Linked DNA regions of Homo sapiens. Changing the gene in region 2 together with the main gene of any one other region gives a genetic interaction. Each region holds a gene or a part of one and is shown on either strand. Other genes may lie near its edges. The genes, in order: WDR7, EGFR, STRAP and SACM1L.

Region 1 (7,028 bases), on a different chromosome or scaffold from region 2:
CTGCTTATGCTGTATCCATCACCAACCTACAGCAATTTCAAGAGTTACTGATTAAGCTAAAAGCCCATTATGCCCACCAAGACCTTACTTTTTAAAGGAAATTCCATTTGGTTGAACCAACTTCGACTTTCTCCTGCCACCCACCTCTAATCTCATTTGCATCTCCAGTCATTCCAATTTCTTCCCTTAGGTTGCCATCAAAAGTCTAAACTGAGCACTGAACTTTCTCGTTGTATATAAATTGAATTAAACAGAAAAAGAAGAAACAAACATGCTTCCCCAAATTTGAAGCTGAATTGTCACATTAGTCTTGGAATCACTAAAATAAGATGGGCAACTGTGAAGGTATGAAAGTCACACTAACTAGAGAGGAACCCAGCTCTCCATTTCCATTTTAAACTCTGAGGAAATATGTGATGTCTCAAGTTAAACTTCTCATTTGTAACATTACCCTCCTCCTGCTCTGCCTGTCACAAAAACTGCCCTTGACAAGGTCACCAATGACCTCCCCACTGTTAAATCCATTATCAAGTTCTAACCCTTATCTTACTTGACCTACCAGCAATTTGACATAGTTCATATTCCGTCTTTGAAATAAATACTTCTTTACCTGGCCTCAAAGTCTTCACTTTTTCCTGACTTTCCTTCTTCTTCTCTAGCTTTAGTCTCCTTTCTTTCTTTTCTTTCTTTTTTTTTTTTTTTAACCTTTAAATATTGGCATTCCCACAACTTAGTCCTTAGACTTCTCTTCTCTGGCAACACTCCCTCCCTCAATGATCTCATCAAGCCTCATTGCTTTAAACCATCTATAGGTTGAGTATCCTTTATCTGAAACACTTGGGATCAGAAGTGTTTTAGATTTTGGATTTTTTTCAAATTTGGGGATATTTGTATTATACTTACAGGTTGAGCATCTCTAATCTGAAAAATCTAAAATGCAAAATGCTCCAATGAGCATTTCTTTGGAGTGTCATGTTTATGCTCAAGAGTTTTGGATTTTGGAGCATTTTGGATTGCAGATTTTGACAGTTCCCCAGTTTATTGTGTGGGATGCTTTTCTGAAATCCAAATCAGTATGTCCAGCTTCCTACTCAACATCTCCTTTTGGATAGCTAATAAGTTTCTCAAACTTGGCATGTCCAAAAGTGAGCCCCTGATCATTCCTCAATGGTGCCCCTCCCACAGTCTACCCATCTTAGTTATTGGCAACTCCAGTTTTATAGCTACACAGACCAAAATCCTAGAATCATCTTTAGTTACTCTATTACTCTCTCACACATACACATTCCACATCCCAATCCATCAGTAAACTCCACTGGCTATACCTTCAAATCATATCCAGAATCCTGCAACATCTCAACACTTTCACTACAACCACCCTATTCTCAATCAGCATCTTCCATCAGGGATAACACAACAGCCCTCTAACTGGTCTCCCTGTTTCCATCTTTGCTCCCCTGCAGTCTCAACACAGCATATAGAGTGACACTATTAAAAAAAAAAATCATGCTGTGATCACATCTCAAAATCTTCCAATGGCTTCCTGTCTCACACATAGCAAAAGCCAACTCTACATACAACTGCCTATCCTATATGAGTGAGGTGGTTGTTCTCTCCCTTGCTTACTCTTTTCCATCTGCTCTGATTCATTGGTGTTGCTCAAAGATACTAAACAGAATCTTACCTCAGAACAGTGTCCCCCACCCCAGATTCCTTCTGGCACACTCCTTTGCCCTCTTCAAATCTCTATAAAATATTACCTTTTTAGTGAAGAGTTTCCTGACCATCATAAATTGCAAAATCTACCACTCAAACTAAACACTTACAATCATTTAACATACCATATGTTTTATTTATTTATCATCTGCCTCTCCTGGTGTATGTTCTATGATGGTAAAGATCTGTGTTTGGTTTCTTCTCTATTGTATTCCCAGTGCCTAAAATTCCTTCCACATAGAAGGAATCCAAATACTTGAATAAATAAACAAACTAGTGAATGAAATATGTTTGCGTTGGTTTAAGTAAAGTTGCACCCATCAGCAAATTAAAGTATATCCCGATTTTATATGTTTTGGATTTCACAGGGCAGTTTCTTGTCAACTAGTTCTTCTATAATAATGTCAACAATTAATACAAGCCTCCTTAATCAAAATGTCATTAACATATTGTTTTTTTCCCCAGCTACAGGTTTTACCTACGCTCCTGCCTCTTTTAGTCTATCGTGACATATACACAGCAAAATATATCTTAGGGCCTATGAAGCAAATTAGCTGACATAATCACTACTACAGTCACTAAGGCCTAGTAATTAATCACAACACTGTTTCTTAAAAGTAAGTACAGGGGGCCGGGCGCGGTGGCTCAAGCCTATAATCCCAGCACTTTGGGAGGCCAAAGCTGGCAGATCACAAGATCAGGAGTTCAAGACCAGCCTGGCCAACATGGTGAAACCCCATCTCTACTAAAAAAAAAATACAAAAATTAGCTGGGCACAGTGGTGCACGCCTGTAGTCCCAGCTACTCAGGAGGCTGGGGCAGGAGAATCGCTTGAACCCAGGAAGTGGAGGTTGCAGTGAGCCAAGATCATGCCACTGCACTCCAGTCTGAGCAACAGAGTGAGACTCTGTCGTTAAAAAAAAGTAAGTAAGTACAGTGATATTTCATTCGTGTGAATTTTTTGCTCCAACTAATGGAAGTTTATACTGTTTATTTGTATTTGAAACATTTAGAAAAAAGAAGAGCCTTTAAGGAAGATAGCTTAAATGTGAAATAAACTTGAATGTGAAAACAGAAGGTAACTGGCTCACTCTATCAGTCTGTTATCACTGACATATACCAACTACCAACATTCAGAGAGAAACATGATGTGCAAAAAACTATCTTCAGTGAGCTTGTAGGGTCATAAATTACAACTGCTAAGCTGAATGGGAGACTGCATTTTCAAAGTCATGTATTTCCAGGCTGGGCGCAGTGGCTCATGACTAATTCCAGTACTTTGGGAGGCCGAGGCAGGCAGATCACTTGAGGTCAGGAGTTTGAGACCAGCCAGGCCAACATGGTGAAACCCTGTCTCTAATAAAAATACAAAAATTAGTTGGGTGTGGTGGTGCACACCTGTAATCCCAGCTACTTGGGAGGCTGAGGCAGAAAAATTGCTTGAACCGGGGAGGCAGAGGTTGCAGTGAGCCGAGATCATACCACTGCACTCTAGCCTGGGCGACAGAGCGAGATTCTGTGTCAAAAACAAAACAAAACAAAAAAACAAAGTCACATATCTCCAGAAATGTTATATTTTAAAGAGCCTACAGAATAACGCTTAGCACTTCAGAAATCTTCCCTCCCCTAAACTGACCAGTGCCCTAACATTCGTTGTTCCAACATTTTATGGCTCCCACTAACTCAAGTAATCAACAGCCAAAAAAAAAAACCCCTGTAATTTCATTAAACGTCACCAACATAGTTTGAAAAAAAATCCAATTTTATTTAAAATAGTAAATACTTCATGAATGTAATATATATGTTCCTTAATAGAAAGGAAGTAAAAATTTCCTTGGACTCACAAGGACTTTCTGAATGCAGTCATGATGTAGGATTTCTTCTTCCAACATAATTGTTTGTGTTCTTTTGTATTCAGCAAAGCAGCTTTAAGAATCAGATACAGACAAAGACAAACGAACCATATGGATGGAATTCAAATTGTAAGTTAACATTACTATCATAGTACCTGTCAGTGAGAACATGTCCTCTTATTGATGGCAGAATTTCACTGAGCTATCCATAGCTCTCAGCTGATTTTGCCTATGATCAATGGCATGCACATATGTAAGACTATTAATTCTTCAAAAAGTGCATGAATTAAATGGACAAAAATGAGAACAGAACCTACAAACCTCACTAACTCCATAATTTAATTGCCAGGCATGGTGGCTCACGCCTGTAATCCCAGCACTTCAGGAGGCCTAGGTGGGAGGATAACCTGAGGTCAGGAGTTTGAGACCAACCTGGTGAAACCCCATCTCTACTAAAAATACAAAAATTGGCCGGGTGTCCTGGCGGGCACCTGTAATCCCAGCTACTAGGGAGGCTGAGGCAGGAGAAACGCTTGAACTTGGGAGTTGGAGGTTGCAGTGAGCTGAGATCACACCACTGCACTCCAGCCTGGGCAACAGAGTGAGACTCCATCTAAAAAAAAAAAAAAAGTCCCAACAAATTAAAAAACTGTCACAGGGAGATGTAACAGATAAACCCAGGAATAAAGGCACTACATAGTTCCAGGCCTCACTCTACACGCACTAAAATTACTTCAAGATTTACACTATGAATTTTGATTTCTGTCTAGTAGAACACAAAAAGACAAAGGTAGATTATCAATATATGAAAATCAATAGCATTTTCTTGTATCAGCACTAATCTACTTAAAAAATAGTATACCATTCACAGTATTTTTATAAACTACAATATTTTACTCAAAGTCATAAGTGAAAGACCATTCCATGTTCTCAGATAAAATGTCCTAATATTATAAAGATATCAATTTTCCTCAAAATAAATCTGTAAGTCAAAGTTCTACTGGTATTGTTTTTAGAAACTCAAACTAACTCTAAAATACATAGGAAAGAATAAAAATACATAAATAGCTGAGCCAAACTTTGAAAATGGGCAAAGATGAGAGAAAGTGCTCTACCAGATATTTAACATCACTAGCTAATTTGGGAAATGCAAATTAAGACCACACTGAGATATCATCACACATCAGAACAGTTAAAAAAAAAAAAAATAGTGGCCGGGCGCAGTGGCTCACATCTATAATCCTAGCACTTTGGGAGGCTGAGGCGGGCAGATTGCCTGAGCTCAGGAGTTCGAGACCAGCTTGGGCAACATGGTAAAACCCCATCTCTACTAAAATGCAAAAAATTAACTAGGTGTGGTGGCATGCGCTTGTAGTCCCAGCTACTCGGGAGGCTGAGGCAGGAGAATTGCTTGAATCTGGGAGGCGGAGGTTGCACTGAGCCAAGATTGCGCCACTGCACTCCAGCCTGGGTGACAGAGCAAGACTCCATCTCCAAAAAAAAAAAAAAAAACAGTGACAGTATCAAATGCTAGTGGAAGACGATGCAAAGAAATGCAATCTCTCATACATTCCTGGTAGAAATGTAAAATGGTACAACCACTCCAGAAAACACTTTGGGAGTTACTTCAAAAACTAAACATACACTTACCATACCATCCAGCAACCATGTCCCTGGGCATTTATCCCCCAAAAAATGAAAATTTAAATCCATACGCACACACACACACAAAACTGTACAAGAATGTTCACAGCAGCTTTATCTGTAACAGCCAAAAATTAAAAACAGCCCAGATATGCAGGTGAATGGTTAAACTTGGATACATACGTACCATGGAATACTACTCAACAATTAAGAAGTACAAACTATTGATAAATGCAACAATTTGGATGAACCTCAAGAACTGTCTCATTCAACAATGTTGATGAATCTCAAGAACTGTCTCATTCAACAATTTGGATGAATCTCAATTTCAAAAGATTACATGCTATAGGATTCCATTTATATAGCACTCTGGTAATGACAAAATTATAGAGATAGAAACTGATTAAACTGATTAAGGGATGGTGAGGGTAAGGGAGGTGGATGAAACTAGAAAGAGGTAACATGAAGAAAATCTTTGTAGTGATAGAATAGTTCCATATCTTCTTCCTCTTTTTTTTTTTTTTTTTTTGAGACAGGGTCTTACTCTGTCCCAGGCTAGAGTGCAGTGGCATAATCACAGCTCACTGCAGCTTCAACCTTCCCAGGCTTAGGTGATCCTCCCACCTCAGCCCCCCAAGTAGCTGGGACTACAGGCATGCACAACCACACCAGACTAATTTTCGTATTTTTTGCCAGAGACGGGGTTTTGACATGTTGCTGGTCTCAAACTCCTGGGCTCAAGCAATCTGCCTACCTCAGCCTCCCAAAGTGCTGGGACTACGGGCATGGTCAACCACATCAGCCTAGCTCTGTATCTTGATTGCAGAGGTAGTTGCAGGAATCCACACAGGTGATAAAATGGCACAGAACTATACACAGGCATTGTACAAAATCAATTTATTGGTTTTGATACTGTACTACAGTGGTATAAATTGTAACTATTGAGGGAAGTTCCTTGGGTGAAGCTGCATAAAATGTAACCACTGGAGGAAACCAGACCTCTCTTTACTATTTGTGCAACTTCCTATGAACCTATAATTATATCAAAATAAAGTTAAAACAAAATAAATGGGAAGAGTTATTTATATAGGAGGAAAAAACATACTACTACAAAACCATAGAGTTAAAACAGTATAGTGTTAGAGCAAGAACAGACAAACCAAAGGAAAGGACTCAATATTCAGAGTATATATGAGCACTTAATACACAGTGTGACACCATATCTATGGGAAAAGGGAAGAAAGATGCCAGGAAAACTGGCACAGTACATGGAAAATAAACTGGATCACAAACTTGTGACACATAAAAAGTTAAACTCTGCATGTATTAAAGACCAATAAGTTTAAAAGAAAACTATGAATTAGCAGTACATAACATAGCAGAGTAACTTTGTGGCACAGCACTGGGGAAAGATTTCTTAAACAAAACCTCCAAAATACAACCATATAGCCAAAAGATTTTTTAATTTGATTATATCAAAATATAAGATTTCTGTTCAATGAAGAACATCATGAGAAAGATTACAGACAAATGACAGATTAGGAACAGATACACTTGTAATACTTAAATGATTAGTATCTATGGAATACAAGAAATGTCCGCAAATCAACAAGAAAGAACTGAAACCCCAAAATAAAAATGGGTGAAGGGATGAACAGGCAATTTCACAAACAAAAAATTAAAAAAGATAAAACACACATGAAGAAATACTCAGATTCGGCAGGGCACGCTGGCTCATGCCTGTAATCCCAGCACTTTGGGAGGCTGAGGCAGGCAGATCACAAGGTCAAGAGATCGAGACCATCCTGGCCAACA
Region 2 (7,028 bases):
CCAGGTATAATTTGTGAGGAATGTATAACAAATGTTTCTTAAAGCATGAATCCTCTTCTTGAATTCTTGTTTTTATGAAAGCCATCCAACTACTTACTCAATCCTCTTGAAATCTGCCTTTTGTAATGTAACTGATAGGCCAGCGTTTTCTTTCACTGTGGGAAATAAAGGCTACTTGGTTGCTTTAGGGAGGGCAACAATGTCAGCTGCATAAGCAGCAAGAATATTATATTTTATTACTAGTCCACCCTTAATAAAGAGAGAAACCTTAGGAAATGGAAAGAGGTGTCTGTTTTATATTTCCTTTGCTTTTCAACCATTGTTTAGACACTCTCCCTTCTAGTGCTTGGAGAACCTTCATGGAAACTCTGTTCAGGTTCTTGACTCTCAGCGACAGATGTGGAGGTCTTTGTGTCTTAGCTCTCTAGGCCTGAGAATCACATACACCTGCAGAATTTGCCTCCAAGTCCATGTCCTTGTGGCTAATCCCTAGGCCAGTAGTTCTCAACTTTGGCCGCACATTGGAATGACCTCAGGAGCTTTAAAAACTACGAATGCTTGGGTTTCAGCCCCAGAGATTTGCGTTTAATCGGTCTGAGGTGTAGCTGGGCTTCAAGCTTTTAAAAGCTCCTCAGGTGATGTCACTGCAGCCAGGGCTGAATAACTTCTCTAGGGTGGCTGGGCCCAGGCTTGGTAAGACTGTTGGTGAACTAACCAAAGTGTGCTGAACATTATTAGGCTCTCCAGACATGTCTAGTTTATACTGGTAAATGCATATCAATTGTAAATATAAAAATAAAATTTGCATTGAAGTCACATTATATATATAAACCAACAAAGTGCTATGTTATTGCTTTTCTTACATGTACAGGGTTACACTGGCAGATGATGAGAGTATGGCATGCAACTGGATTTTTCTAGTAGTAACAACAGTGAGCCCTTTCCATTAACACTGCCCCAACAGAACCTGCCTCAGACCAAGCTAAATGTGCTTTCCATCATCTTTTAAAATTTCCTAAATATAAAAACGATGCTTCTCTTCTTCACCATGACAATGACCTAGCTTAGCTCCCCAATGAGGTTGTGCCTTTTTATAAGAGAGAGAAAGGGCTTTCCTCTTGCCTCAACTTAACCCTTTTAAACAAAGATTTCAGTTTCAAATTTTGATTCTATTGCAGTCTCTCTAAAGTAAACTGTGTTTGTTTTAGTAGAAAAATGAGTTTCTAAAAATATATTGTACAAAGTTCAGTGCTACATAAAGAGAACTATATCCCGCAACAAAGTTACAAAAATAGATTTACATTTAAAAATCCTGTCTGTGTCTTCAATAGTACAAAGCTGTACCCCTGGTATGGCAGGTGTGGCTGGTGAAAGAGGCAAGGATTTCTGTTCTGTAAGGTTTTACAGCCCCCAGGCAAGGAAATGTGAGCAGATCATTATGTTGCAATAAAAGTGTGTGCTTATCACAAGAAAGAAATGCAGAGTAGACATTGAGGGCAATTTCAACAGGTGTTGCCTACGTGGAATAGCAGCTCACTCACAAAGGAGGGAAGAGACTGGTTTCTATAACTTACTTAGAGAATGCAGAGGGTCCCAGGGCGTTTTCAAAGCTCAGGTGGGGGTATTTGCCCCTTTCCAGCTGAACTGCTGGTGAGGATGAATTGAACGCTTTTGAAATGAGCCAAGTCTCAGGCTTATCAGTGACTGCAGATTGTTCTCTCCACTGCACATGGGAATCTCTACCCTACCCAGCCTTTTATTCTACTCTGACGGGGGCTCTGGTACAGACCCACAGTCTTGTACAACTGAAGACCCTAGAAATAAGGGTTTCAACCCTGGTTGCCCATTAGAATCATGAAAGAGCCCCCGAGATTTGGGTTGAATTGGTCTGCAGAGACTCCAGGCCCCTTCTTTTGAAGCTCCACAGATGATTCTTTTCTGCCTGAGGGGAGGTGCTGAGTTCCCATCACCCACCAGCTTCATCCTACACAAGTGCAATCAGAGGCCTAGTGAGAGTGGCACTGGGGGGTGGCCCCCCAGCGAGTGCCAAGTAGATCCCACCAGGCCCTTCCTTTAGGCCAGAGGTTCTAGAAACTTTGATGAATGTTGCAATAACCAGGGGGTGCTCTGAAAAGGCCCTACGGCTGGGCTGCACCTGAGAAAATCAAGCCACAGTCTTTCTGGTTGGGACCAGAAGATTCCCAAGGGCAGCCGCCCTTGAGAACCAGTGCCTTTCCTGCTAAGCAATCCATAGTCCCCTTATGTCTGCAGTTGTGAGGCAGGGGTGGTAAGTCACAACATCAAGAACTTTCAGCAAACACCTAAGCTTTGGTGTCATCAGCTGGAGTGCAATAGGATGCATCCACAGTGCTCCCCCTTACAACCTGGACTCACAGCGAATATAGAGTTTAGAAGACTCATCCCTTCTCTGATCCCTCATGGGGTGACGGGCATGGTGTAATTAGAGGAGCTCCTTAGAGATGATGCAAGAAGATGCACGAAGGCTGGCGGCACCTATGAATGTGAGCTCTCAGCTCCTTACTTTCCTTCGACCTCTGTTTCCAAAGACCACATCTGAAGCTGGGGTCATGGGGTAAGGTCTTCCAGGAACTGACTGAGGAAGAAACAGCCAATGGACAGGCTTTCTGTAGGGTATTAAGGCCAGGCTATCAATCAGGAAGACCTTCAGGGATGGAGTCCAAGCTTTGAGTACTGACTGATCAGGGCTGTTAGGTGAAAATCATGGGACTTTGGGCAGCTCCTCTCCTGACCTGCCCATCACAGTCGCCAGATCCGTGAAGAGGCTAAGGGCTTTGCGGCTTCTACCAGACAGAACTGTGCCTCCCTGGACAGATGAAGTGAGAACTATTTTGGGAAGCACAATCTTAAAATTAATAGAATTTAGCAACTAAACTTTATGGTGGAAAATTAAAATATGAAGAAGAAAGCTAGAATAGCTTTTGCTCTTTTATTAAGTTACTGTTTCAAACTACAAAAATACTAGAATTTAATGCTACAATGTGACTCACTTACAACTGACCTGCCTCATCGATCATCTGCTTCTTGACACATAAGTGACAGCAGAATGTAGGTCCTTCTGTTTCCCAGTTCTGACTGAAATATTTCTGCATGTCCTGAGGTGAATGAATAATGAAAGTGGTTAACTGACAATATAAAATCTCAGATTCTTAGAAATGTTGTGTAGTCTTCTCACTAAGCATGTGCAGAGATGATAGCTCAAAATCCCCCTGGGGGCTGCAACTTTTAGGGAACTTGTGGGATGCTCCAAGCTCATCCCCTGGCTTAGAGGGAGCAGGTTGTTTAGGGTGACTGACCTCAGCCTTATGTGGACTTTAGCAGTGGAGGCCTCTGGCAGCTGTTTCCTCGGTCAGGGTGCCCCTGATGCACCTGCACTTTCCACCTCCCCGCTGACTGAGACCTGGTCATCCTCCTGTGAGGCCTCCCTTCCAGGTCTCCTCAGGCAGGACCCAACCTCCCTGCTCTGTGCTCTCACAGTGCCTGGCTGATGGGTCCTGTCTGGCATTTGTCACGTTGTTTTAAGGTTAGCATCTATGAGTCCATTTCCTTTGCTAAATTGTGAATTTCTTAGAATCAGGGACTATGTTTTATTTATCTTTGTATCTTTCATACCCATACCAGGCTAGTATAGATGCTTAGGGGTATTTGAGAGCATAATAGAGTGGAAATGAATATAGTTTTATTTTCATTGAGACAAAAATCAAATACTTTCTTAACAATGCTGTAGGGGCTCTGACTGATCTGGGAGTCAAAAATTACTTTAAAAGCAAAAGGAACATTTTGTATGTGTGTGTGACTGAACATAACTGTAGGCTGAAAATATTTTCTGAACCATTTCTTCCTTGATAAATTGGATGGGGTGGATATTGACTAGGAGAGTTTAAAACACTGTTTACAAAGGACTGCTGTTAACCAGTCAGGTTACAGGGCACACACAGATTAGGAAAAAAGGTGGGCTCCTAACTAGCTGAATCTTCCAATCTTCCAATTGTAGAGAAATTATTTTAGGAAGGAACTTTTTTCCTTCTAAAACATCTGCAAATGTTGTGAAAGCATTATCAATTTCAAACCCTAGTTTCATATTTACTACCTGAATTCCACACTACTCATAATGCTACTGTCATTCGCACCTGTAAAATGCCCTGTTGTGGCCAGAGCTGTAAGTGCTTGAATAGATGACTCAAGGCAGAGACACTTTTTGTGTGACAAAGCGTAAGGAGGGGGTTTGGGGGCAGCTGACCTGGAGGGAACATATACTCTTTGAGTAAAAAGCTTTTGAAGTGAAGTAAAAGGAGAAAACTATCTTCCATAAGTAACACAAACTAATTTTGGGGGGTTGGGGTGATGGCTAAAGGAGATTTCAGAGCAGCTTCATTTTTGTAGTCTTCTGATCTATGCCCCAAAGGACCTGATGCATTTCATCTGAGCCTCAAATTAGGAGATACGTTTTTGCGAGAACAAAAGCGGTGCTATCCTTAGGTATTCCACATTCTCAGCTGTGGGCTATTGGTCCAAATGCTGATGAATCCAATGTGGGCTGGAATCCGAGTTATTATTTGATGTGTCATCCTCTCTTGCTGATTTCATGACAGCAAGACAGGGGCAGCATACTGAGTTTCAAAACAATGGAATGGAAGACAAACAAGTCAGTCTAACGCTCATGACTGGAAACCACTGGTCCATCAGTGGGGAGTAAGTACCGTGGGGACATTTTTACAAAAGTAAGTCTAAGGAAGAATTCCATCCCCTCCGTTTCTTCTTTGCCCAGGAAGGGACAGAGTGGCTTATCCTACTGTACCTGCCATGACTTGATACAGTACCGATCCGGCCTGCTGGGGCCATGAAGGCCTTCTTGGATCTTTAGTGTTTTGCAGTGGAAGCCTTGAAGCAGAACCACTGGAATCAAGCATCCTCTGGAAGACTTGTGGCTTGTGCTCCTTGCTCACAGTTGGGCCTGGATGAACTCAGGGTAGCAAGTGCTACCAGCAAGCTTCTTCCTTGTTGGAAGAGCCCATTGAAGTAAAAATCAATAGCGACAATGAAAAACTCCAAGATCCCCAATCAATAAAAATCCTCACATATACTTTTTTTTTTTTTCAAATATACCTCTTTGAAAGATAAATTTCTGCTCAAAGGGACAATATTCTTGCTGGATGCGTTTCTGTAAATGCTTCACAGTTTGAAGACAAAGGAATGCAACTTCCCAAAATGTGCCCGAGGTGGAAGTACTTCCTGGCTAGTCGGTGTAAACGTTGCAAAACCAGTCTGTGGGTCTAAGAGCTAATGCGGGCATGGCTGTTGGGATGGAGGACCTGCTGTGGCTTGGTCCTGGGTATCGAAAGAGTCTGGATTTTTAGGGCTCATACTATCCTCCGTGGTCATGCTCCAATAAATTCACTGCTTTGTGGCGCGACCCTTAGGTATTCTGCATTTTCAGCTGTGGAGCCCTTAAAGATGCCATTTGGCTTGGCTTCCTTGGGAAAGAAGTCCTGCTGGTAGTCAGGGTTGTCCAGGCTAATTTGGTGGCTGCCTTTCTGGGCCCAGTGGGCAGGGCTGTCGAATGTGCTGTTGACACAGGTGGGCTGGACAGTGTTGAGATACTCGGGGTTGCCCACTGCAGTGCTGTGGGGGTCCTGGTAGTGTGGGTCTCTGCTGGGCGCGGGGTTCAGAGGCTGATTGTGATAGACAGGATTCTGCACAGAGCCAGCGGGCCTTTTGGGAACGGACTGGTTTATGTATTCTGAAAGTGGAAAGAAATCAGAGGTGAAGTAATCAGCAAAGCACCATCCCATGCAGGATCCCTGGGTTCTGAACCCTGTGAATGTCCTCAACAAGGAGACTTATGACAGGGAGCAGGAGCCTCGGGAGGGCCCTCTTGCTGTTGCTGCAAAAGAAAGTGGGTTCTTTCCTGTCCTTCTCAAAGTAATGGACATATGTGTCTTTTGTAAATTTAAAGTTCTCAGAGGATAAACTGCCTTGAGGAGAGTGTGTGTATGTGTGTGTGTATGTGTATGCATGTATACATATATGTGTGATGTGTATGTGGTATGTGTGTCTGGTGTGTGTATATGTGTGTGTATGTGCACCGTGTGTGTGGTGTATGTGTGTGTGGTGTATATTTGTATGTGTGTGTGGTGTGTGCATGTGGGTGTGTGTGGTGTGTGTGTACGTGTGTGTATATGTGGTGTGTGTATACGTGTGTATGTATGGTGTGTGTGGTGTGTATGTGTCTATTGTGTATGTATGTGTGGTATGAGTTGTGTGTGTGTGGTGTGGGTGTGTATGTGGTGTGTCTATGTGTGTCTGTGGTGTGTGTGGTGTGTGTACGTGTGTGTGGTGTGTGTATGTGTATGTATGTGTGGTGTGTGTCTGTGGTGTGTGTGTGGTGTGTGTACGTGTGTGTATGTGTGGTGTGTGTGTGGTGTGTATGTGTGTGGTGTGTATGTGTGTGTGTATATATGCGTATGTGTGGGGTGTATATGTTTGTGTGTGTGTGGGGTTTTTGTGGTGTGTGTGTGGTGTGTGTATTTGTGTGTGTTGTGTGTATATGTGGTGTGTGTGTACATGTGTACATATGGTGTGTGGTGTGTATATGTCTATATGTTTATGCATGTGTGGTGTCTGTGTGGTGTTGGTGTGTATGTGTGCATACATATGTGTATGTGGTGTGTATGTGTGTGTGTGGCGTGTGTACATGTGTGGTGTGTGGATGTGTATGTATGTGTGGTGTGTGTGTGGTGTGTATGTGTGTGTGGTGTGTGTGTACGTTTGTGTATATGTGGTGTGTGTGTACATGTGTATGGTGTGTGTCGTGTGTGTCTGTGTGTATGTGTGTGTGTAGTTGGTGTGTGTAGTTGGTGTGTAAAGAGGTATATCATCTGCCTTAACTTGCATTTTTCTAATAGCTTATAATATTGATAATCTGTTTATATTATATTAGATAGCCAATAAACTATATATTAGATATTACACTAACATATATATAACTT
Region 3 (7,065 bases), on a different chromosome or scaffold from region 2:
TGGCCAACATGGCGAAACCCCGTCTCTACTAAATATACAAAAATTAGCCAGGCGTGGTGGCGTGCACCTGTAGTCCCAGCCTCTCAGGAAGCTGAGGTGGGAGAATCACTTGAACCCGGGAGGTGGAGGTTGCAGTGAGCCGAGACTGTGCCACCGCACTCCAGCCTTGGGGACATAGCAAGACTCTGTCTTTAAAAAAAAAAAAAAAAAAAAAAAAACACCACTTGTACTCTCTAGCCTCTTAAGTCTAATAAATCTGTGTATGCACAACAGTTCTTGATATTGCCTTCATCAGTTTAAACAATGAAGTGTCAAATTCCTAAGTTACAAATACCAAGTAGGAACTGGAGATAACAAGATTTATAAAATATGATACATTCCCAAAAAGGCAACGAGGGCCACTGCAAGTCAGTTTAATAACATAATTAACCGCCAAAAGTCAGAACAGGTAAGGTATATTCTGGCAACAATAAGATTAGTATAATTAGATTGTAGGTTTATGGTGTGCAATGGCAGAGGATGATGCTGATGAACTAGGATGAAGCAAACTGTAAAGGGCCAACAATTGAAATGTGTCCTTTAGGTCAGCAATTCTATGACTGCACATCAGGAAAGAAAAGGAAGAAAGAAAAATAAAAAAACACCAATAATCAGTATGACCAGTACTCCATCCCCAGACCAATCAAACCAGAATTTCTGTACCAGGCACAGTAGTTCACCCCCGTAACCCCAGCTCTTTGAGAGGCTGAGGCATGGAGGCCAAGAGTTTAAGACAGCCTGGACAACATAGCTAGATACTGTCTGTATAGTAAAAAGTATTAAAAAATATTTTTAAATGTAGTAAAAAGTATAAAATATAAATATATAGTAAAAAAGTAAAAAAAAAAAAAAGTTTTAAAAATCCGAATTTCTGGGACTCATACCATTTGAATATTTGAAAAGCTCTCCAGATATTCTAATGTACATCAAAGGTCATGAACTACTAAAATGGCAAAGGGAAGACAGGAAGATCATTAGTAGAGAAGTGACATGATCAAGTATGTTTTTAGGAAGACAACTGGCAACAATATGGAAAATGAATAGGAGGAAAAGAAACTACTGAAAGTTAAAAATGATCCTGAACTAAGGCAGCCACAGTTACTACATGAAGGAACATTGGAGTCAGGAGACATCCCGCTGGCAGAATCAAAAAAGATGATGATAATCTAGATATAAGGGAAAATCAAGAATGCTTTAGATTTCAACCTTTAAAAACTTAGGAAATGACGAGCAGCTGAGTTTTGTTTTTTTGTTGTTTTTTTGTTTGTTTGTTTTTGACACAATGAGTTTTAATGATGCCTAAAGCCAGTTAACAAAAACCGGGATTGAAATAAAAACCTAGGGCCATCAATGTAGGATATCACTAAGGAGTACACACAGAGCAGCATTCGTAAAGGAGATCAACATTCATTATCTGGTGCGTTTGTTAATGCAGATTCCTGAGTCTCAATCAAAATATACGGAATAAGTCATTTAGGCCTCTGAAAATTTTGAGAACCACTGAAGACAAAGAAGCACACAGGACCACGATGGACCACGATGGAATTTTGGTGGGATCAAACATGCGTTCTGTATGGCAGCCAGTGAGTCAGAATTTTATGAATATCTGACACTGAAGTTTTTGATTATTTCAGGACACAAGCTACAGAGAACACCAAAGTTAGCCATCTTGGCTACACTTACGCTGTGAAATCTGCAGCTGCTGTAGCTGCTTTGGTGGCATCCTTATTCAGTGTTGCACCCCAAACAGCACCTTTATGACCCAAAAATGTTCCAATCCAGTCTCCTGTATCTCCCTGGCGTAGCATAGGTTTACCATCTAGAAAATATTTTTTAAAACATGTAATTTATAAGTTCAGATTACTTAAAGTCTAAGATTCAAATGTAAATATACAATGATGTTCAATGACAAAGTGGAAAAATTGTTTCAGCTATTTAACTACCACCACCCACTGAAGGCACTAAGGAATGTGCAGTAATAAATTAACTGAAGAGCTGAACAGATCATTCTCTCTGAAAAGCATCTGTAATTGGCTGGGAATACTGATCTGCGTCAAAACAATCTAGATTTTAGTCTTATTTTGGACAGACATCTTAGCCTGAATCTCAGTTTCCCATTTGAAAAATGAGGCTAATACCACAAAGGAATATCCAGTGAGACAAGAGCGAACGTCTTTGTAAGGTATTGCACGGCCTGGCCTAATTTCTCCTTTCCCCAAATCCTTGAAAGCTATTTACCGTGTTGTCCCGAGAGTCTAGGCAAATGCTGACCAGCTCCTTCAAAAATAGCAATAAAAATAAAATAAGGAGAGAGGTCTTAGTTGGAGGTAATAGTTTCTACAAAAGCGTCCTCTCGGCTCCAGCTGCGGATTCCCTAACACACTCCTTTCTCCACCGGACCAGTGTTGGCTCTCATCTCAGATGTTAATATCGCCCCCTCCCCCCTCACCACACCACCGCTTCGGCACTGGAGCGTGCGGGTCCCGATCCCTTTCAGCCCAGTCCCAGCCGTCGAGGACCAGGATTGCGGCCTTGCTCACCTTTGCAAGCGCTGATTAAGAAATACCCATAAGGCGTGATGCCACTGAAGGCCAAATCAACCACGGGTCGCGTGTGGCCAGAGCAGGTGAGCGGCGTCTGTCTCATTGCCATGGCGGCGGCGAAGCCAGCGACCGGACTGGCGAGCTGAGGGTCGTCGTTGTCTTTTCTCTCTTCTGCTGCAGTGCCTCGGGCTGCTCCAGGCCCCCGCCCTGACACTAGGGCTGGGCTGGGCAACAGGAAAAGAAGGGCAATCCGGTGGCACCGAGGTTAGGGAGGGGTGAGGGAGGGGTCAGGGAGTCTGCGACCAGCAAGCAACAGTCGACGAGGGAGGGAAAGGGAGGGAGGGAGGAAAGTAGGGGATGGGGAGAAGCGGAGAACCGGGCCAGCCACGATTCACAGCGTCCACACCGGCATCGGCAGGAAGTGACGACGTAAATGACGCAGAGCACCCGCCGGAAATGACGATTGGCGGGAGGGCGGGCTCGCCGGGTAGAAGTGACTTGAAGAAAGAGCGAGAAGTATAGAAGGGCGCAGGCGCTAGTTCAGTGCTCGTGAGGTAACTGGCGCTGGCCCACGCCGACTAAGGGAGACGCTCTAGGCACCGGGATGGGGTCCCTGTCCCCGAGCTCTAGCGGGTCAGAACGCCTTCCTGGTCCGCGGCCGAGTTGAAAGTTGTTCCCACTCCCATAAGTCCAAGGACCAGCGTCAGCTGTGTACCTGCCGAGCAGCCCTACTGAGGACTGTGCTCGGCCTCTGAATATCTAGACGGACACGAGCCATACCCAGTGACGGCCCAAACCAGCGAACGCTGTCTGGCAACGTTTTTTGCAATTTGTCTTATTTAAAAACCATATACGGGCTTGGAGTGGTGGTGCCTGTGGTCCCACCTACTTGGAAGGCTGAGGTGGGAGGATAACTCGAGCCCGAGAGGTCGACACCGCAGTAAGCGGTGCTCGCGCCACCGCACTCCAGCCTGGGCAACAGAGCGAGACCATGTATTAAAAAAAAAAAAAAAATCCCCAGTCATTTCTTCCGCTGTGTAAGTTTTCCTATGTTGCTAATGTTTTAGGAGTGGATACTATATAGTTTTAAATGCGATTAAATTCAAGTTACTTTTTCCTTGGTGGACTTCGGAGAACTCTAGAGTCGTAGATCCCCAATTTTTTTGATGAAATACTCTCATCCGTAAAGTGAGCCTTCACTCATTTTATAAGCGAATGAATGCTGAATTCTATCAAAAACTTTTACACCTTTTGATATGATGTATATATGAGTGATGATTTGCAAATTACATAGATGTGCATTATAATACATGGACAAAAATAGAAATATTAAAATAATATTTAAATATAAACAAACTCTGATATTGTCTGCAGCAGGCAGCCCACTGTGGCTCTGTGAAACCACCAGAGCTGTTAATTGTTGATACTGTTTCCTAACCAGGAGAGGGCTTTTCTCTGGGCAAGTTGTATCTTTATTGATAGAATGTAAACCCAATACAACAGAGATTTTTGTGTTTTCTTTGCTACTTTATCCCCAAGGTCAAAACGTCTGGGCACATAGCAATAAATATGTAATCAACATAAATGTCTGTGAATGTTTTCTTCATCTTTTTGCAGCAAACACCGTCTACAAGATTCGAGTCAAACAACGTGAGAACTTGAAATACGTCTCCATTCTTTTTCCTTAGTACTCTCGTTCATTCACTTACGGTAAAGCACTTACTATATATGTTTTTCATTTTATCTTGTTCGACTCCTCCTTTGTGCCATCCTCTCCCTTTTGTCTCACACATACGCACCACTCACACATTTATGAACTCCTTAATGGCAATGGTTATGGCTTTGTCATTTGTACTCTAGTGCCAGAAAAGTGAATGGCATTTAGTGAATACTCAGCATGACTGTTTACTGATTAAATAGATTGTTGCATTACTGATGGAGGTAAATAAAAGACCCACTCAAAATGACACAACTGGTCAGATACTGATACATGTTCATTTATTGCTCATTGTGTGTAGATAAGAATATAATTGGTAAGTTATGGTACATACTTGGCTCTAAAGAATGTATTATTTCCTGCTCATTTGGATTCTGAGTTCTAAGAGTATTGTGTATTATGACCAATTGGGTAGGCTTCAAGGTCAATTTAATATTAGAAGACAGGTTAATGTAATTGATATAATTAACAATATTAAAAGATTAAAGAAAATCATATCAAAAGATGTGTAAGAAGTTTTTGATAGAATTCAGCATTCTTTCACTTATAAGAATTCTGAGACACTAGAAATAGAAGGGACTTTTTTAACCTCATAGAATATCTGAAACCCCACACCTAATGGTGAAATACAGAAAGCATTCTGTATTAGATTAGGTACGAGACAGATGATTGCTACTGCCTCTTCAATACAGCATCGTACTAGATGTTCAGGTAACTTAAAAATGCATAAATCTTCCAAAGAAAGTTGTAAATCTGTGATTAGAAATTGTTTTAGAGGTTATATACAAAGAAAAGAGGCAAGGTGTGGTGGCTCATGCCTGTAATTCCAGTTCCCAGTACTTTGGGTGGCTGAGATGGGAGGATCACTCCAGCCCAGGAGTTCAAGACCAGTCTGGGCAACAAAGTGAGACCCAGGCTCTACAAAAAAATAAAAAAATTAGCCAGGCATGGTGGTACACTACTGTGATCCCAGCTACACGGGACACTGAGGCAGGAGGATCGCTTGAGCCCAGAAGTTCATGGCTGCAATAAGCCCAATTTCTGCCACTGCACTGCAGCCTGGACAATGAGGTAAGACCATGTCTCAAAAGAAAAAAATAAAAATAAAAATTATTGGAATTAATGAGAGAATTTAGAAAGGTTACTGAAGTTGTTTTTTTCTTTTTTTAGAAGAGATGAAGTCTCACTATGTTACCCAGGCTGGGTGCGATGCCTAGGTTACTGGGTTTTGTTGTTGTTGTTGTTGTTGTTTTAAGTGTAATGAAGAAATCACATTTCTATACATTAGCAACAACAAAAAATGTAATTTTAAAATATGCCATGTTAAATAGCATCAAGAATTATAAAGTACATAGGAATAAAAAAACAAAGTGTACTCCCCAGCAGAAAAAAAACTGGCACGCTGAAATGTAGAAGTTGAGAGCAGTGTAATGAAGGGATTAGTTACAGAAGTGTGGCCAGGATCAAAAGTAAACAACAAGGAGAAAATAGGGCACTAACCATAGATCTGAATGAGAAACTGAAAGGGAGCAGTTATCTGAACCTGATTTATTTGAGAAAGGTACGGTTGCAGGAGAAGGCTCTGGGCGAGAGCTGGAATAATCAGTAGAAGAACACAACTGCTCCCAATTATCATCAGCACAGCCATGGGGAAGAAGTGGGGAAATGAATATCTACTTTTAGATCTCCCATGCTTCCCATTGGTCAAACCCAGCCAGAGCCCAGAAGACAAGGGAGCCCTTTAATGGGGTCCATAAATGTCAACCTTCTAGGACTTAAACCATAGTACAAAAAGGAGAAAAGGGGATCTCGTTAAATAAAGGAATACCCAACATGATGTTCAATATTATTTAATGCCTCTCAGCAAAATGTATCGTTCTCTATTAAAGGCATTAAATAATATTAAAATAAATGGAAAATGGATATATTGTGTTTGTGGGTTGGCAGGTTCAATTTTGGGAAAATATCAGTGCTCTCCTGTTATGGACTGAATTGGGTTCCCCTCCTCCAAATTCCTATGTTAAAGTCCTAATCCTCACTATCTCAGAATGTGACTGTATTTGGATAAGTAAGGTAAAATTAGGTCATATGGGTGGGCCTTAATCCAATGCAACAGTTATCTTTATTGAGAAGAGGAGATGAGGACACAGACAACACAAAGGAATGACCAGATGAGGACAGAGTGAGAAGGTGGCCATCTGCAAGTCATGGGGAAAGGCCTCAGAGAAGAAAGGAAATTTACAGACCTTAGTCTTGGACTTCTAGCCTCTAGAACTGTGAGAAAATAAATTTCCATTGTTTAAGCCACCAACATCTGTTATGGCAGACCTAGAAAACAAATACATCTCCAAAATGATTTACAGTTTCAATACAATTGCAAATAAAAGTTCCAGTTTTTGGGGGGGAGGGGCAATGACGTTTTTAAAATTATTATTTTTATTTTTCCATAAGTTATTGGGGTACAGTTAGTATTTGGTTACATGAGTAAGTTCTTTAGTGGTGATTTGTGAGACTTTGGTGCACATATCACCTAAGCAGTATACACTGCACCATATGTGTAGTCTTTTAATCCCTCGTCCCCCCTCCCACTCCTCCCTCCAAGTCCCCAAAGTCCATTGTATCATTCTTATGCCTTTGCGTCCTCATAGCTTAGCTCTCACTTATCAGTGAGAACATACGATGTTTCGTTTTCCATTCCTGAGTTACTTCACTTAGAATAATAGTCTCCGATCTCATCCAGGTCACTGCAAATGCTGTTAATTTATT
Region 4 (7,267 bases), on a different chromosome or scaffold from region 2:
GCCTGGGAGGCTGAGGCTGCAGTGAGCTGAGCTCACACCACTGCACTCCAGCCTGGGTGACAAGTGAGACCCTGTCTCACAAAAATAATAAAAAAAAAAAAAAACTCTCTTTCAAACCTTACAATAATCCTGTGAAGTATCAACATTCCCATTTTACAGACTGAAACACCAATTCAGAAGGATTAAGTACTATGCCCAGGACACAAAACAAGTAGTCAAGTTAAGATATGAATCCATATCCATTCTGACTAACAAAACCTGAGATCTCTTGGCTCTACCATGGATGTGACCAGTATGTAAAGAGAACAGAGAGGAAGAAGGCATTCTGGGTAGAAGGATCAAAATAACACCCAAGTTTGAAGCTAGAAGGGGATGAGCCAAGTTTTGCAGAAGTGGGGAAAAGGCTCTGGGCAGTTACGGGAAATAAATTAGGCGACAGATTATAAAAAGGCTAGAATATACAGATGGCTAAGAAATGCAAGTTTGATCCTATAGGTCAGTAAGATGGAACTGGAAATTGTAAGCAGGAAAGTAGAGGATAAAACCAGAGCATTAGAAAGGTGAAATTCAACAAGGCAGAGATGGGCTGGAGAAAAAGCATGGCATAATGCAGACAGAATTATTATTTAAAATCCGAAGTAGGACAGGTGTGGTGGTGTGCATCTGTAGTCCTAGCTCCTCGAGAGGCTGAGGTGGGAGGCTCGCTTGAGACTAGGAGTTAGAGGCTGCAGTGAGCTATGATCAAACCACTGTACTCCAGCCTGGGCAACAGAATGAGACCCCATCTCTTTAAAGACAAAACGAAACAAAAGAAAAAAAAAACAAGCATTTCAACATTTAAATAAATCCTTTTAGCAATCCTTTTGTAATAAAATAATCGAACTATCTCTTTTGCATGGATATTTCTTAAAACACATCTCCAGACACATTTTAAAAAATGGCTACTATCTCCTACCAATTCTTACACAGAAACCAATTTCACTTCTAAATGCATCCAAAAAAGAATACTCCTTAGGGCAGGAGCCACATTTGAAAACCTTCAACAGCAGCCTCAGAGCAGGAAGGGCCAAAAGGAAGGAATAAAAATGGAAACTCTAACTCATAAACCCCTTGGTAAAGAAAAAGGTGCAAAAAAGTTGTACCTTCACATTTACAGAAACACTCTAAACTTTTTTTTCAGGGGGAAAAAAAGCTAGGACTGACAAATGAGAGAATGACTTTCACATAACCCCAGTTTGACTTTATCACCCAAATAATTTAAGAGTTTCCACTTCTCACAAAAATCAATACAAAAACATCATTCTTACTACTTCAGGGACAAATTTCCTTTCTCTTTTATGTATGCGAGGATTTGGGTTTGTTTTAAGGTCTGAACTGGTTAAATTTAGTGTTCTGGCAGCTGAAAAACAATCATCATAATTCTCAAGTTCTCCATCCTATTCAATCTTTGCCACGCTAAGCTGCATGAAGCCATGGCTCCATATGGCTTAAACACATTTGAGACCTGGTGTAGGATCACATTAAACCCTTCAGTGCCTATCAGATACACAATAACCTAATTAGCTAGCAGAGCACATGTGACAGTGGCCTGGCCAGAAACGCAGTGGAAGACACTTCCTTCAACTCTTTCACCAAAGACGAGGTGAGCACTTTGCAAAGGGGAACTGGGAGAAAATAGGGAAAGGTGGAGAGGAAAATGTGGAGGGAAGTGTGCAGCTAGGGTTTTCAAAGAACATTACAGTAAACAGAAATGGCACCCACAGGGGGTGCACTGTAGAAAAAGCAATCATCTTTTTTGCAACACATACAATGTGGAATAGATGACCTCTCTGAATTTTGCACCTCTAACTTTCCACTGAACCTTTCAGAAAGTTACTAGTGAGGTTGAGGTCTGAGGAGCTTAAGTGCCCAAACCACATTTTGGTGTCATTTCCCTGCAAAAGAAATGCGGTATCTATGCCTAACTGCCAAGGTATTTTAGCTCATATACAGGGATAGATAAGCTTCTAAAAAATTACATTTGTTTCTCCTACCAGATATTCCCAGGCTGTGGCCACCAGATTTTCAAACAGCCTAGGGGTAAAGCATTAAACACGAAGTGAGTACAACAAAATTATTCACAGACAAGAAAAGTGTGGATGCTAATGGGTAACACTAAGGGAAATAAACACATGTTGTTTTTAATCCAAGACAAACCAAAACCCTTAAAAACACCTATTTTATAACTCTTAACAACCACAGCCTCTGTATCAAAGACTCAAGAACTTGGATTTACCGAAAAGTCAATTTGCAGTACCAAAATTACCGAGATTAGCCTCTGGCTGTCGACACTGACTTAAGAACCTGCTTTAGGCTGGAGCTGTTTAAAATTTAAACCAAAGTAAACTCCTTCAGGACCTTAAGACTACTGACTGTACTTTAAATTTTTTCTGCACACTGAAGAGGGGGCAGGCAGGCTTCGGTACCCAGATAGGCTGTAAGCAAAACAAAGATTTGTTGATTTGTGCGTAGACTCTAAATTGCTGCTGTAGGTCCGTTAAGTAAGAGAAAACTCTTTTTCTCTGTTAAGTCATACAGATAAATTTAGTCGGTAGCTCTGCATAGAAAGTGGGGACAAGCGTGCCCTGAAGGGCCGCATCATAACGCCGACCCCGGCTCGGTGGGGGCCAGTCGGCAGCTTCTCTCTTCAGCCGTGGGCGCTGGGGCCGAGCACGGTGGAGAAAGGCCGGCGAGCCGCTGGTTCCCGGCCTATGGCTACTCGGGCGAGGCCTAGGAGAGGCCGCGCCGGCTGAGGAAAACCGGTAAATGCGAGGAGCTCCCACACCCTATCTGCAATCCGGGACTCAGAAGCCCTCCCCGAGGCCAGGGCCCGCACCTGCCGCCCCGCCCGCCGCGCCTCAGGCCTCTGGCCCGTGGGACTCACAGCTTCAGCTGCTCGTAGGCCGCCGTCGCCATCCTGCACAACCACCTCCTTCCTTCTCTCTCCGCCCGCCCCGCCCCGCGCCGCCACCTCGGCTACAACTCTACCGGTCACCCTGGCACAGCGGCCGCAGCTCCCAGCCTCTTCCCACCCCTTTCCCCGCCCCGCAGGAGAGCCGGCCTGAACGGGAGGCGGTGGAGGACAAATTAGTGCGCAAGCAAGAGCACGCGAGAGATGCCGCCGACGCGGCGGGTTGGAGTGCGACGAAGAGCGCCGTGACGAAGCCGCTGCGGATTGGTGGGGCGCGTTTTGGGGAAAGGCAGAGCAGCGGGAGCGCGGCGCAAGGGCAAAATGGATCGTTGGTACCCGGAAGCCCGTTCAAACTGTATAAGGGTGATCAGCTATCACGGAGAAGGCTTTAGCAAGTCGGGGCCAGTGGCGCAATGGATAACGCGTCTGACTACGGATCAGAAGATTCTAGGTTCGACTCCTGGCTGGCTCGCGATGTCTGTTTTGCCACACTTGACCCATGTACTACTGGGTCTTGTAAAGATGTATATTCACAATGTGAAAGTATTACAAGACCTTGGAAAGGTGTATGGTTAGAATGTGAAAGTTAAATATCTGAAATTTTGATGCCGCTTTGCTCACAATGTCATCCTTTATCCTTTAAACCTGGAGTTGTCTGAGGTGGTTTGCAAACTGCAAAGCGCCCTGTTCCCAATGATGCACCTGAGAAGTCTGTAAATGGGGTAAATTTAGGCAAACACACCTGGAAAAGTGGCATTTTGGAGTGGGGAATGCTGTGGCCGGAGGTTAGCAACCGGATGATGCAAAAGCGTATTTAAGGCAGCAGTTCTGGCCTTTCCCCGCCACGGAGCAGAAGCCCCCATAGTGATGTGAGAAGCGGCGCTGTCCCAGTTTACTAGGATGGGATGGGCTTTGGATCTAACCAGCAGCGAAGAAAACCTGCGGTGCGGCTGCGCTCGGTAGTAGGGGTCCACAAAGCGTCAGAATCTGCAGCAGCCCCGGCCTTTGCGAGCTCCAGCTCCGAAGTCAACCCGGCCCCCAAATTCCACTGGGAAACCTTAAGACACCGGTGTTTTTACCGTAAGAAGACCTCAGGTAATCTAGTATATTACCCCTCATTGTATGGATGCGCGACTTGGACACCCGAGAAGGCGCGAAACGTCTGCGGCCTAAAGGGACTCGAACCGGGGGATTATATGAGTCATCGGACACTGTCCGTTAACCAATCACTCAATCGATCAATTAATTTCCGCAACATAACGTTTTCCCCTGATAAAATTATAGATTTTTAAAATATATAAAATTATTGGGAATATTAACGCGATTCCCACCCTAAATCATTACTATTATTTTTTTTTTCCTTAAAGCCTTTTTTTCTTCTATATTTTTTAACATGGGCATACTTGCACATGTGTTTTTCCAAATTGGGGTTGTACGGAAATGGGTTCCTCATTTTGTCTCCTTACCTTTTTGTCTGAGATTTAAGGTCATTAAATATTCTTTGAAGATATTTCATCAGAGAGCTAGATATTTTAAGCAGAATCCTTATGCTGGGAATTTGGGTGGTTGTCAGTTTAACACCTAGAAAAAATGATGCTGCTTAGGAGTTCGAGACCAGCCTGGGCAACATAGCAAGACCTCATCTCTATTTACTAAATAAATAAATAAATTTTAATTAGCCAGGTGTGGTGGTGTGCACCTATAGTCCTAGCTACTCAGGAGGCTGAGGTGGGAGGATCACCTCAGCCCAGGAGGTTGAGGCTGCAGTGAGCTGTTACCATGCCACTGCACTCCAGCCTGAGCAACAGAATGAGACCCTGTGTTGAATTATTATTATTTTGAGACGGAGTCTCGCTCTGTCACCCAGGCTGGAGTGCAGTGGCGTGATCTCGGCTTACTGCAGTCTCTGCCTCCCGGGTTCAAGCAATTCTCCTGCTTCAGCCTCCCAAGTAACTGGGACTACAGGTGTGTGCCACCACGCCCGACTAATTTTTTGTATTTTTTAGTAGAGACGGGGTTTCACCGTGTTAGCAAGGATGGTCTTGATCTACTGATCTCGTGATCCGCCCACCTCAGCCTCCCAAAGTGCTGGGGTTAGATGTGAGCCACTGTGCCCGGCCGAATTATTTGTCTTACAAATTTCTAGAGGTGGAACGACCAGGTGGACATCTGTAAGGTCCATTTTATGGACATTTTTAAGACTTTTGTTACTTTCTGACTGCCCTCCAAAAAATTAAACCAAAACACACTTCCATCAACAGCACCTGTTTCTCTGTTTTCGTGCATGCTAACCAACACTGGCTATTATAAATTTAACCGTGATTTGCAATTTTCATAATTGGAATATGGAACTTCCTTTTACATGTACTTTATATATTTTCTCTTGATGTATTGAATTTTTTCTTACAAATTTGATTTTTTAATATATTAAGGGTATTAACTCTTAAATACGTTGCAATCTTTTTTCCAGCTTATGATTTACCTTTTCAAAATTTTTTTAACGGCTGGGCACGGTGGCTCATGCCTGTAATCCCAGTGCTTTGGGAGGCCAAGGCAGGTGGATCTCTTGAGGTCAGGAGTTCGAGACCCGCCTGGCCAACATGGTGAAACCCTCTCTCTATTTAAAAATACAAAAATTAGCAAGGCATGGTGGTGTGTGCCTGTAGTCCCAGCCACTCAGGAGGCTGAGGCAGGAGAATTGCTTGAACCTGGGAGGTGGAGGCTGCAGTTGGCTGAGATCACGTCACTGCACTCCAGCCTGGGTGACACAGTGAAACTCTGTCTCAAAAAAAAAAAAAAAAAAAAAATATATATATATATATATATATATATATTTGAACTTGTAGTAATTTTCACTTTATATATTCACACTTACTAATATTTGGTTTCTTCTATTATATGATTTTTTAATGTTTTGTTCTTATGTTGTTTTTACCATTTACTTTAATCCATTTGTCATTTATTTTGTTGCCATTTATCATGATGTAAAGATCAATTAATCTTAAAACCTGACACACTTTATTGAGCAATTACTTCATGCCAGAAACTGCTCTAATTCCCTTACTTGGATGAATTCAATCATTCCTTACAACAATTGTTGTACCTGAGCGAGTTAGAAAAACGCCACACTTTAAGACGAATTAAGAGTCCTTTATTAGCCAGCGACCGAGAGACGGCTAACACTCAAAATTTTCTCAGCCCTGAGGAAAGGGCTAGATTTTCTTTTATACTTTGGTTTAGAAAGGGGAGGGGGGGGTCTAGTTAAAACAATTTTACAGAAATAAAGTAGGCAAAAAGTTAAAAGGATAAATGGTTACAGGAAAGTAAACAGTTCCAGGTGCAGGGGCTTTAAGACTATTACAAGGTGATAGACCCGGGGCTTTGGGCGTTATCAATCAGACGAATTCCTGGGAATTGCGGATATAGCTTGCCACAGTATCTTATCAGTTAATTGCATTCTTGGATGTGCTGGGAGTCAGCTTGCACAAGTTAAGTCCTTGAGGAAGGGGTGCCAGTGAAAGAGCCAAGATGGAGTCTGTCTGGCTGTCTTAGCTAAGGGAGAGTCAATTCAGGTGGAAACAAGGCTAGGTGATTAAAGGAAGAGGGAGAGTCTAAAAACAGGGTTAGTAAAAACAAGGTTGGGCATTACACAATCCCATGAGGTAAATTCAGTTGTTATCCCCATTTTTACAGATGAGGGAACTAAATTGGCTTAAGGTCATGGAGCAATTGAGTTATGAAGCCTGAGATAGAATGTGAGTCTGGGCTCTTGACTCCAAGGCCGTCCTGCCCTGTGGACTCACTGTACCCCAGAAGACACCGCATGAGTAGGTTCAAGGACAATTCCCTGTCTGGGCATGGACGGCAGTCACATCTGCCACTTACCCCTCACCCCTACTAATTAGCAACAAGAAGACCCCATTTCTAGTCCTTATGATGCTTTTACCCACTATCTCTGGGCTCTTGGACATTTCCTCTCCTTTAATAAAATAGGGGTTTAAGTTGCAGCCTGTCTCATAGGCTTTAGGGGGAAAAGAAATGCTTCCATATGAGCAACTGCCACCCATTGTCATGTAGAAGGAACTAAGAGAGGCAAAGTTTGACGTTTCTTTACCAGTTGGGAACCATAAACCAAGGCCTTTGTGACATTCAGTGAGACTGAAAACCAGAAAATAATCTGGCAGAAACCCCATTCTTCTGGGGTTTTTAAAGGCCAAACAAGCCAAAATCAGATTCCAAGGAAACCAATGTTCAGGATAAGGAACCAGCCAATGATGGGTAATATAAATTCATATCTGTAGCCAAGTTTTTCCTATA

What was found.
Region 1: changes in EGFR (region 2) and WDR7 together harm fitness more than expected from each alone (negative genetic interaction), as found in Homo sapiens cells (2 studies listed by BioGRID).
Region 3: changes in EGFR (region 2) and STRAP together harm fitness more than expected from each alone (negative genetic interaction), as found in Homo sapiens cells (2 studies listed by BioGRID).
Region 4: changes in EGFR (region 2) and SACM1L together harm fitness more than expected from each alone (negative genetic interaction), as found in Homo sapiens cells (2 studies listed by BioGRID).

Annotation. Positions count from the first base shown.
Region 1 is NC_000018.10:56,654,333-56,661,360, reverse strand, and holds part of WDR7 (WD repeat-containing protein 7), read right to left. Parts: intron 1-7,028.
Region 2 is NC_000007.14:55,204,007-55,211,034, reverse strand, and holds part of EGFR (epidermal growth factor receptor isoform a precursor), read right to left. Parts: intron 5,780-7,028; coding exon 5,418-5,779; 3' UTR 1-5,417. UniProt on the Homo sapiens protein: Receptor tyrosine kinase binding ligands of the EGF family and activating several signaling cascades to convert extracellular cues into appropriate cellular responses.
Region 3 is NC_000012.12:15,878,334-15,885,398, reverse strand, and holds the start of STRAP (serine-threonine kinase receptor-associated protein), read right to left. Parts: upstream 3,013-7,065; 5' UTR 2,692-3,012; coding exon 2,580-2,691; intron 1,859-2,579; coding exon 1,723-1,858; intron 1-1,722. UniProt on the Homo sapiens protein: The SMN complex catalyzes the assembly of small nuclear ribonucleoproteins (snRNPs), the building blocks of the spliceosome, and thereby plays an important role in the splicing of cellular pre-mRNAs.
Region 4 is NC_000003.12:45,685,154-45,692,420, reverse strand, and holds the start of SACM1L (phosphatidylinositol-3-phosphatase SAC1), read right to left. Parts: upstream 3,026-7,267; 5' UTR 2,956-3,025; coding exon 2,924-2,955; intron 2,074-2,923; exon of another isoform or gene 2,034-2,073; intron 1-2,033.